3 linked regions of the Homo sapiens genome follow. The protein of the gene in region 3 purifies or fractionates together with the protein of the main gene of each other region. This does not show direct contact. Each region holds a gene or a part of one and is shown on either strand. Other genes may lie near its edges.

Region 1 (3,568 bases), on a different chromosome or scaffold from region 3:
CAGAGCATGGTGGTCATCTGCTCTTCATGTCCAGCAGGCTCAGAAAGAACTCGGAGTTCCCCTCGCACCCTTGGGCCAAGCTTTTCAAGTCCGAGTGCCAGGACTGGATGAGCTGGGGTTTGTGTGTCTGCTGGCGGCACAGTGGGTGTGCACAAGACCACCATTTGGGTATCTAACAAACACAGGCTCACAAAAGGGATTTTGGCATATCTGACAAAGCTTTTTGTCTGAGAGTTGGATTGAGCTTCCTTTCAACTTCATCTGCAAGAAGAAACCAAGACTGAGAATGCTGTCATGTGTTAAGTATATTTAAAGTGGCTACGTTCTAGTTTTGCAGAGTTGACATGCATTACTCCATGGGTTATTATTATGATGAGGATTTCTTTAATATCAACTTCTTGAAATGAAATGCTAAAGGTGTAAATAAAACCATCCTTAGTAACTGGACAAGGAAGAAAGTTACACAATTGCTTTTCTTATTTCACAAAAGTAATTGTTGCTTGTCTGGCTGAGGCATTTCTACTTAAGATCCTCTCTCCAACATTCTCTGGCTCTGATCATTTCAAGCAAGGCCTGTTAGAAAGTCATGAATGTTAATGCTGAATGAGACCATATAATAGTGTAACTCCAGGGTTCTCTCATTTGCAAATAAGAAAAGTAAAGCACAAACAAATAAGGGATGTAGTCAAAGTTACACAGCTAACAAGTGGCATATTCCTGGTTGGTCCTGGGAGACACCCTTCCGTTTCCTTAGAGGTAACTGGTGAAACTGAGTCTTAATGCCATCGGTCCCTGTCTGATCAACAGGACTTGAGTTCTGAAAGTTATAAAGTTTTTCTACACAATTCACTCGTGTCAACCGAGGCAGGTTGGTCTATTGGCAGGATCAAGCAGCAACTTAGCGATTCATCCTGCACTCCTTAGTTGCATCAGTCATTCCACAAACACGGATTAGATGCCTTCGACATGGCAGGCTTAGCCCTACAGACACTGAGATAAAGAAATGAAGTTCCCTGTCCTCAAAGAACCCAAACTCTAATAGTAGCGGGTAACAGCTGTGAATGCGAACACCAAGTAAAAGTGGGTGAAAGAGAAGGTGATTACTCTACTTAAGAGGTATGAGATGGCTTCACCAAGGGAAAAAAATAAAGGCTAAATTTTGACTGGGCATTTGCTGGGGACAAAGAAAAAGGTAAGAATATCTCAGGCAGTGGGTACAGCATTTACAAAAGCAACAAAGTATGAAATACCAAATCACATCTGGAAGGTTGTGCTAAAGCCAGGACATGAGCTGGGAAGCAGAGAGAGGTGGGGAGGGATATGCTGAAGGAGGTGGGACTGCATCTTCCAGGACAGGGAGCGTCAGCAAAGGCTTCTAAGTGGGAGGGGAACACGTCGGATACCCGCTCTGGAAAGAAGACTCTGCCAGCCATGTGGAATTTAGGCCCACAAGAAAGAAGTCTCCCGAAGGTGAGTACAGTGTGGGGACGAAGAATGTGGGGTTCTCAACTGGCCTGGGAGGCAGCTCTGGGCACGCCCATTTCCTGAGCATGCGACTGCTCTCTGCCTCAATTTCCTCTCCTGTGAAATGGAGATGCTGACAGTAAATACTGCATAAAACTGTCATGATGACAAAATGCAAGCATGACGTAAAATGCCTAGGTCAGTGCCTGGCACACAGCACATGCTGGGTAAGCGCCTGATATTCTGATGCTGCTCTCCTCCCTACAGACTCTCTTAATCACCAGCGTCCAAAAGGGGAGAAAAACTACACCGATGTTACACCTACCAGCCCAGCCTCTGCCTCTGCTCACACAGACCTCAGTTTCTATGAGTAGGATCAGATATTGATGTGTTGTAGTCATAGAGACAGAAAAAAGAAAAACCAACAAAGACTATTTTTCCATCAGTAAAATCTACCTTCAGTACAATGTTGACTGACCAGGAAGCAGCTCGTGGGGGCCAGCACTTACCTTATCGTAGGTGTAGATTAAGTTTTCGGACCTGGCCAGGCCGAGAGCCACCTGCATGGTCCTCCTGGCATGGATGCTGTCCCTCATGGCCCCCATCAGGAATGGGCAGAGGAGCTGCACTGACCAGGTGTCAGGCAGCATCTGCAGCACCTGGGCTGCATCAAATTCGGTGGCGTGGCGGTTCAGCAGGTCCACGGCAGCCACGGCCAGCTCGTGGGCAGTGGGGCCAGCATGCAGGTAGATGGCCAGCAGCGTGTGAAAGAGTTGCTGGCGGTGGGGTGGGTCTCGGCCCTCGGAGCACCACAGGCAGTAGTCCTCGGCCGCTGCAAAGTCCTGCAGCTCGTGCACCAGGATATGCAGCGCCTTCTCATGCTCGCCCAGCTTCCCGTGCAGGATGGCGCTCTCCATGGGCAGGCCAGCTCCCTGCAGCCTCTCTGCAAGACAGAACCTGCAGCTCAGAAAGAAAGGGGCTCGCCGGCCACCCGCCCAGCGACTGGCCTCCTTGCTGCTCTGGGCTTCAGGAGGGGAAAAGTCAACCTGGCTCCCTCACAATGCCAAATGCTGCCACCCAGATGACTGAGGGTAGGTTTTCTTGCATTTTCACACTGTGAATCCAGGTGTTAGTAAAACAGAAGGCAGACTCTACTCAAAAGTATAGCTGGACCACAGAATAATTCCTTTCTCTAGTGTTCAGAGGATGAAAAGAACAAATGAACCACAACTACAGAAAGGCCCAGTGGCTCAGTGAGTATCAGCCTTCCAGGTCTCCAGTCACTCCATCATCACTCCTATCCTCCCAGGACAGTATCTTTTGACTAAAATAGAAGGACACTATGTCCCCTAAAATCCTAACAAACACTACTTCCCCCCAAAAGATGTGCTGAACCCCTTTATTCCAATGTAAAGTAGATTTCATTGAATGGAATATGAGCTCATATTATTCAAAATCCATCTCTACATTACTCAACAGAAGGTTGCCAATAATAGGATTTTTTTGTTTGTTTCACCTGCAATTAAGCTTCCAGGTCCTAAGGAAAATGACATAACCCAAAGCGTCATTCCTGACCAAGGCCCCACCCTTAGTGGGCTGTGTCTCACGGGCAAAGTCACCTTGCTTCCTACCCCATCTGTAACCCCATCTGTAACTTCCCACCCAGCCCGTCTGGAACTGCACCAGCCCTTATCTGCATTGCAATTAAACTCTGAGTCTCTAAGGACCAGAAGTGAGGCTCATCTGTTTTTACATCCTCAAGAGATTATAAGATCTCTTCCTACTGTGAAGAAATATTATGAGGACAACCCCTAGTTTAGGGTCAAGACTAATAATCAAATTATAGGCATTTGAATCTTGGCTGTCGCTTAGGCCTGAAGAACATGGCAGACATTGCTACCTGTGTAGCCAAGGGCTGGCCCTGCAAGGTACATCCCTTATAGCACTAGACACAGAAGCCACAATACGCAACGCCTTCATCCTCACAGTGGAAGGCCAACAAATAATTACTAAGTGGCTGCCATAGTTAAGACCCTGGGTGAGGTACAAAGACAGTTAAGAAAAGATCACTGTGGTGATTTACACTTCCACATCTATCATCTCA
Region 2 (3,132 bases), on a different chromosome or scaffold from region 3:
ATATTTTTCTTGAATCACTTAGAAATATATTCAGATATTCAAGTACCCAGTTTGTCAGAGCAAATTTGATAGAAAAACCATATAGAAAAACATATCTTCAGGGTTAATATTAAAACATACTATATTTTAAAGTATATAAACACCAAATTTTTCTTCATTCTGTGAAAAATGAAGAGTGAGTAAGCAAAACAATGACAAGATATACATTTTAAGCCTTGTACACAAATAGAAAAGCAATATTCATTTTATAAAACAAATCTAGAATATAAAGGGACTTGTCAAGTTGGAAAACTTACTGAATCAAGAAGGTGGCATTCAGTAGTGAGACTTTTATTATCAAATAGTTCTGAAAAACAACAAAAAAAAACTTTTTAAAGAATATTCTCACATTCGAGGGCTGTTAGAAATGGACAAAGCCATGAAAAATATGAAAAGTTCCACATATCAAATGCTAAGACAAAAATATAGACCCCTATGCTATAATGTTTTTTGAAAGTAGTTAAATTCTTATCCTTAACTTTGGTATAAAAGCAGACTTCTGTAAACAAATCTCATGCTTGTAACATTAAAGGTACCCAGAAAATGCTGATGAAGAACAGCTGGAGGACATTAAATGTCTGGCCGAGGTTAAAACCTTTTGTTTTACCATAGGCCCCAGTTAGACCAGCTACAGACTAACTGATGAAAATGGCAGGTAAAACTGGCACACATTATAACAAAAATATAGGAGCCATTTCCTATTGCAGAACCATCACAACAATATAGGTAGAACTAGGCAGTAGGGAAGAAAAATAGGATATTTTGAAGAAAGACTTGGGGATATGTGTTGAAAAGGACAACTAAAAAAAAAGCCCAGGCTGGCCAATGTGGTGAAACTCTGTCTCTACTAAAAATAAAAAAATTAGCTAGGCGCGGTGGTACATGTGTAGGAGAATCGCCTCAACCTGGGAGGTGGAGGTTGCAGTGAGCTGAGATCACACGACTACACTCCAGCCTGGGCAACAGAGTGAGACTCCATCTCAAAAAAAAAAAAAATCTTGAGGGAATTGTTCTAATTCAGGGTCTTCACTAACAATGAAGGATCCTCAATAGTTAGATCTAATGTAAAATGGACCTTATAGGATAATTTATACCTTAATCCAAGTTCATTTCTTTAATAAAGGCTCGTTTAAATATATTTTAAATATCTCACCTGACTGAGAAATTTTAGTTTCCCCTTCTTCTAAGATGCTATTTTGTGAAGCTGTATTTTTTTCAGGGCTACTCATCAAAACATCCTGTGATGTAATTGAAGAATTCAGTTCCATTCCTTCCACAACATCTGAAATTCCTTCTTTTTTGTTAGTATTAATATCATCTGCTACTCCACCAGCAAGAAGAGGCAAACTCATTCTCTCACTGGATAAACAATCCACCTTCAAGTCTGTCTTATTTACAACCTGGAAGTAAAAATGGCATTATATTTAATTATCAATTTAATTACTTGGAACAAATTTTAAAAGTCTTGTTGCTATTAAATACAAGAAAAACAGAAGGATGACATCCCGGACACAGTCTTAAGAACATTATAAATCCTACTATCCTGCTTCTTCAACAATTAGTTCAGATAATATTATAGAAATAGTATGATTGAAGGCAAGTTTCTCAGCAAGTACCTATACTCTAGCTCAGGGACTGGCAAACATTTTCTGTAAAAGATCAAATAGTAAATATTTTAGGTTTGTGAGTCACAGGGTCTCTGTCATAAGTACTCAACTCTACCACTGTATTGCAAAAGCAGCCAGATAGAATACATAAACAAATGTGTGGCTATTACAATAAAATATGATTTGTAAAAATAGGGGCCAAAGTTTGCTGATTTCTGCTCTAGTTCACTGGTTCCATATTCATTCTGATATGAGTTGAAGAATACAAAATGACACTATGGTTTTAAACAACCCAAATGTCATTGAAACAAGAACTACAATTCTACATGACTGATTTAGATTTCCAACGGAAATTCTGGGGATGCTTTACAAAGTTACTTTCTATAATGATATAAACATATGACATACTGGGCTATCTAACCACACTGGAATTGTACTTACATGATTTTCTTCAATTAAATCTGGTAATCCAGGACACTGAGCATCTTCTATGCTGCTCCTAAAGAAGAAAAAAAGCAGCATTACACTCATAAACATATTGTTATTGTTTCACTTGTATTTTGAGTCTTTCCTTTAATGATGGCAATTAGTTTAGGGAATGGATCAAACATGGAGCCTGGTGCAAGATCAGGCGTGATCCAGATAGATTAGTTTTGGACTATAGCTACTGCAGGATGGCCTTACAAACTAAATGCATTCTTCCCCAGAAAGCTCACAAGTCTGTTACCATGGTGGTCAGTCAGGGTCAGGTGGCTCTACCAGCAATACTCTGAATCTCAGCCAAATCCAGAGCTATATATTAAAGAAAAGTCAAAAAGAAGGTGACTTCTGGAGACAGAAGCAACAATTCAATTATTGTCTAGCTGGAGTTAGCTACATTTACTCGTTACTTGTTAATCCAGGTACCTGCTAAGAAACTTGACTTCAATCATACTATTTCTATAATTTTATCCGAAAGTTCAAAAAGCGGAACAGGAGTTACAATGTTCTTAAGTCTGCTGCTTGTTAACAAGTAAATGTAGCTAACTCCAGCTAGACAATAATTGAGTTAGAATACAAGGTATTCTAATCCTGAAGTTACTAGCTTGTATCTTATTAGAAATATCTGTTTTGGCCAGGCGCCTTGGCTCACGCCTGTAATCCCAGCACTTGGGAGGCAGCGGCGGGTGGATCACGAGGTCAGGAGATTGAGACCATCCTGGCTAACATGGTGAAACCCCGTCTCTACTAAAAATACAAAAAATTAGCTGGGCGTGGTGACATGCGCCTGTAGTCCCAGCTACTTGGGAGGCTGAGGCAGGAGAATCACTTGAACCTGGGAGGCGGAGGTTGCAGTGAGCCGAGGTAGTGCCACTGCACTCCAGCCTCAGCAACAGAGCGACACTCCGTCTCAAAAAAAAAAAAAAAATTTATCTCCACTTCTTTCAAGTTACTTTTTAAAAAAGATATGCTCTATTTTTCTAGTGTCCAGCTTTACTTTGCCTTT
Region 3 (3,657 bases):
CTGGAATCAGACTGGAAGTACCTGGCAGGAATTCCTGCTTCAAGGCCTCCTTCTCAAGGGGGTTTGTGTCCTCCTGCATGAATATGGTCTTCTTCGTGGAAACAGTTTCAGAAGTCAGTTCCTAAATAGAAAACAAAAAAGCCGAAAACTTATTATTAGAGACTAAAGCACACAAGATGTATGGCAAAAACACAGTATTGCTATTTTCATGCCAGAGACTAAGAACCAAACTGAAATAGCCCTGCTTTAACAAAGCATAAAACCAAACCTATAGGATCAAGTTGATTCACCAATAATTTAACTGCCTGCCAGAACAAAACCCATCATCTTTTCATGGAAAACAACACAATCTAGACTCCCTATAAAACGTCCTCTACAATGTCCAGAACACAAGTAATAATTACCAGAAGTAAAAAAGTAGGAAAATGTGAACCATAATCTAGAGGAAAAGTATTCAACAGAAAAAGGCCCCAGAATGGGCTGGGCGTGGTGGCTTATGCCTGTAATCCCAGCACTTTGGGAGGCCGAGGTGGGTGGGTCATGAGGTCAGGAGTTTGAGACCAGCCTGGCCAACATGCTGAAACCCCGTCTCTACTAAAAATAAAAAAATTAGCTGGGTGTGGTGGCGGGCGCCTGTAATCCCAGCTACTTGGGAGGCTGAGGCAGGAGAATCACTTGAACCGGGGAGGCAGAGGTTGCAGTGAGCCAAGATCTTGCCACTGCACTCCAGCTTGGGTGACAAAGTGAGACTCCGTCTCAAAAAAAAAAAAAAAAAAAAAAGAGAAAGAAAAAGGTCCCAAAATGACAAAGATGGTGGAATTAACAGACAAGGACAGCTATTATAAATATTTTCAAAAATCCAAGGTAGAAAATGGACATAATGTAAGAGTTAAGATGTATCAGCAGAGAAAATGAGAATTATATTTAAAAAACTAAATAGAAATTCTATAAATGAAAAGTACAATATCTGAAGTGAAAAAATCCACAGAATCCCCAGATAGGATATAGGGCATTGCAGAAGAAATGGTCAGTAAACATGAAGGTTTATCAGTAGAAATTATCCAAACTGAACCACACAGGAAAAAAACAAACAAGCTTCAGTGACCTATGAGACAATATTGAGCAGTCTAACATCCATGTCCCTGGCTGAGGTAGGAATCCTTGGAGCTTAGGCTCTACTGATCCCCTCCACTTCAATCTTTGCCTGGAAGTTGTACAGGTCCATTCTACAATGAGCCCCGTGGAGTTCATCCTTGTCCACATGGTCTCTGAGACCCTTCTACACTTCAAACTATTGAGTCTATGCAGCAAATATCTATTCATTCTATAAAAATACATTTCTAAAACATTTGTATAGTTTAGATCTTTATAAACAATAGTTTTCTTCTGACTCAGAAACAAAATTATGGTTTACTTAAAGCTGCATCTGCTTAATGAAGAGACATCAATACCAAGGATAACCTCTGCCTGACTTAAATTCTACCTCCTCTATGGATACTTTTTGGTTCAGATAATTGGGTATGATCCCTACCATACATAGCATTCTGTTTCTGTTCCTCTTTTGATACATCCACTAGATAAGCACTATTCAATCTGGGATACTTAAAGACTTGCTAACCTGTATCCAAGTCATGATGTTTTTTTGTTTTTTTTTAAAGCGATCAAGGAAAAAACTGCAAAGCTTTGAGTATATGCATATCAGTTCATCAGGTAAACTAGCAGCCCTGCTGAAATTTCATGCAACCCATCCTGGGCCAGTTTGAAATTGGTTTTCCCAGCACTAGTCACACAAAAGGTGAAGGTGACCAATAGCAAGGAGCAATTTGTAATCCACCTTGAATCAATCAGAAACCAGAACTTGGAATCTTGTCTTTTTGATACACCTGTGCCTCTTTGTCCTTTATTTAGCCTTGTCAAAGTTTGCTTGGAGAGTAACTCACATCTTAATGTTGTGGCTCTCTCTTGCCAGGTAAACTATAAATTTGCTTCATTTTAGATCACTCTTGGGTTCTCTTTATTTCCTTCTAACATAGGGAATCAATTTCCATAATCATAACCTACACATGAACTCTTTTCTAAAACTGAGAACTTGCACATAGTCTAGACATTGTGCTTGTTGTCATTTCCCATCTTCCCTTACAACTGCCTACATCACACACTTGGCAAAAGAATGACATACCATTTACTTATCTAAATCTTGTTAAAAAATATTGCTGCAGGATGCAAAACCTCAGTGAAACACAAAAAGACAATTCAAAATATTGATGTGAACCGAGAAATTTTCCTTAATAAAGCTACCATAAAACTAGGGTGAAGTTTTGGGAGTCTTCTTTATATATTTCTTATTGCCTTATATATTTCTATTTCTATTAACAGTAAAGCATGGTGTTAGAAATGGATTAGAGGTGCACAGCAAGGTGATGACAAATTTTGCTGAATGATCCTCACCTCTCCCATCTCCAAACAATTGCTTAAAGAAGGAATTCTTCCTGAGGGAGAGTTCCTTTAGACTATTGTCAAACAATAGAATGAAACTATCTTTTGATTTAATTTATTTACAAGACATCCAGGCTTAAAAAAGCAAATCTATTCTTTATGAGGACATTGAGTATATTAGTATAAATGTAAATAAGCTTAATATTTTCATGTCTTCAAATTGGCTTGGAAGCTAACAAATGCTGGTGAATTGTAATGGACTGCATTAAAGACTTTAATGCACAGAGTATAGTCATAGCTAAAAAGATGTCATATATCAAACCCAACATTGCAATTGAGACGACTCTCTATCCAGGTATCTACCACTTTGTAGAAAGCATAGAATAGCATAAGGCGTTTTTCAGGAGATTGTGAAAAAAACTGTGGGAGGTAAAAGATAGGCTTGTCAGACTGACGAATGCAGAGTTGTCTTCGGCTATTCCAGCTTAATAACTTACATCTAATATTATAACATCACAGAGGAGGCATCTGAAGTTTCACAGAAAAGTAAATAGAATATAATAAACCAAATACTAAATACTAAGTTAAATATCTGAAGTATGCACTGATAACAATCATATTTGGTTTCTGAAAAATACTGAATACTACTTGAAAAGGGCTCAAAGGATCTTATATGAAAAAATATTTGTTCCAAGTGAATAGATTTTTTAAAAATCAGATTTTTTGGCTGGGCGTGGTGGCTCACGCCTGTAATCCCAGCACTTTGGGAGGCCGAGGTGGGCAGATCATGAGGTCAGGAGATCAAGACCATCCTGGTTAACATGGTAAAACCCTGTCTCTACTAAAAAAAAAAAAAAAAAATTAGCCGGGCGTGGTGGCATGTGCCTGTAGTCCCAGATACTCGGGAGGCTGAGACAGGAGAATCACTTGAACCCAGGAGGCAGAGGCTGTAGTGAGACGAGATCGCTCCACTGTGCTCCAGCCTGGGCAACAGAGCGAGACTCCATCTCAAAAAAAAAAAAAAAAAAAAAAAAAACAGATTTTTTTTAAAACCAGTAACACCAGAGTATTTCCTAAAATCTAAGACAAATTTGTCTTTTAACATCTCCTTTTTTCATTAACAAAGATTGTCAATAACATTGGTTTATATGCAAATATGTGAATACTTGCACATATATTGAAAATCAAGCTAAAGGGACCCTTAATGTGCCTTGGATTGGG

Evidence for each region.
Region 1: the proteins of DYDC2 (region 3) and TGFBRAP1 purify together in Homo sapiens (affinity purification with mass spectrometry; one large-scale study listed by BioGRID and IntAct). This does not show direct contact.
Region 2: the proteins of DYDC2 (region 3) and DLGAP5 purify together in Homo sapiens (affinity purification with mass spectrometry; one large-scale study listed by BioGRID and IntAct). This does not show direct contact.

The regions. Positions count from the first base shown.
Region 1 is NC_000002.12:105,267,299-105,270,866, forward strand, and holds part of TGFBRAP1 (transforming growth factor-beta receptor-associated protein 1), read right to left. Parts: intron 2,408-3,568; coding exon 1,974-2,407; intron 262-1,973; coding exon 85-261; 3' UTR 1-84. UniProt on the Homo sapiens protein: Plays a role in the TGF-beta/activin signaling pathway. It associates with inactive heteromeric TGF-beta and activin receptor complexes, mainly through the type II receptor, and is released upon activation of signaling.
Region 2 is NC_000014.9:55,150,503-55,153,634, forward strand, and holds part of DLGAP5 (disks large-associated protein 5), read right to left. Parts: intron 2,146-3,132; coding exon 2,088-2,145; intron 1,440-2,087; coding exon 1,193-1,439; intron 347-1,192; coding exon 297-346; intron 1-296. UniProt on the Homo sapiens protein: Potential cell cycle regulator that may play a role in carcinogenesis of cancer cells. Mitotic phosphoprotein regulated by the ubiquitin-proteasome pathway.
Region 3 is NC_000010.11:80,363,152-80,366,808, reverse strand, and holds part of DYDC2 (DPY30 domain-containing protein 2), read right to left. Parts: intron 122-3,657; coding exon 1-121.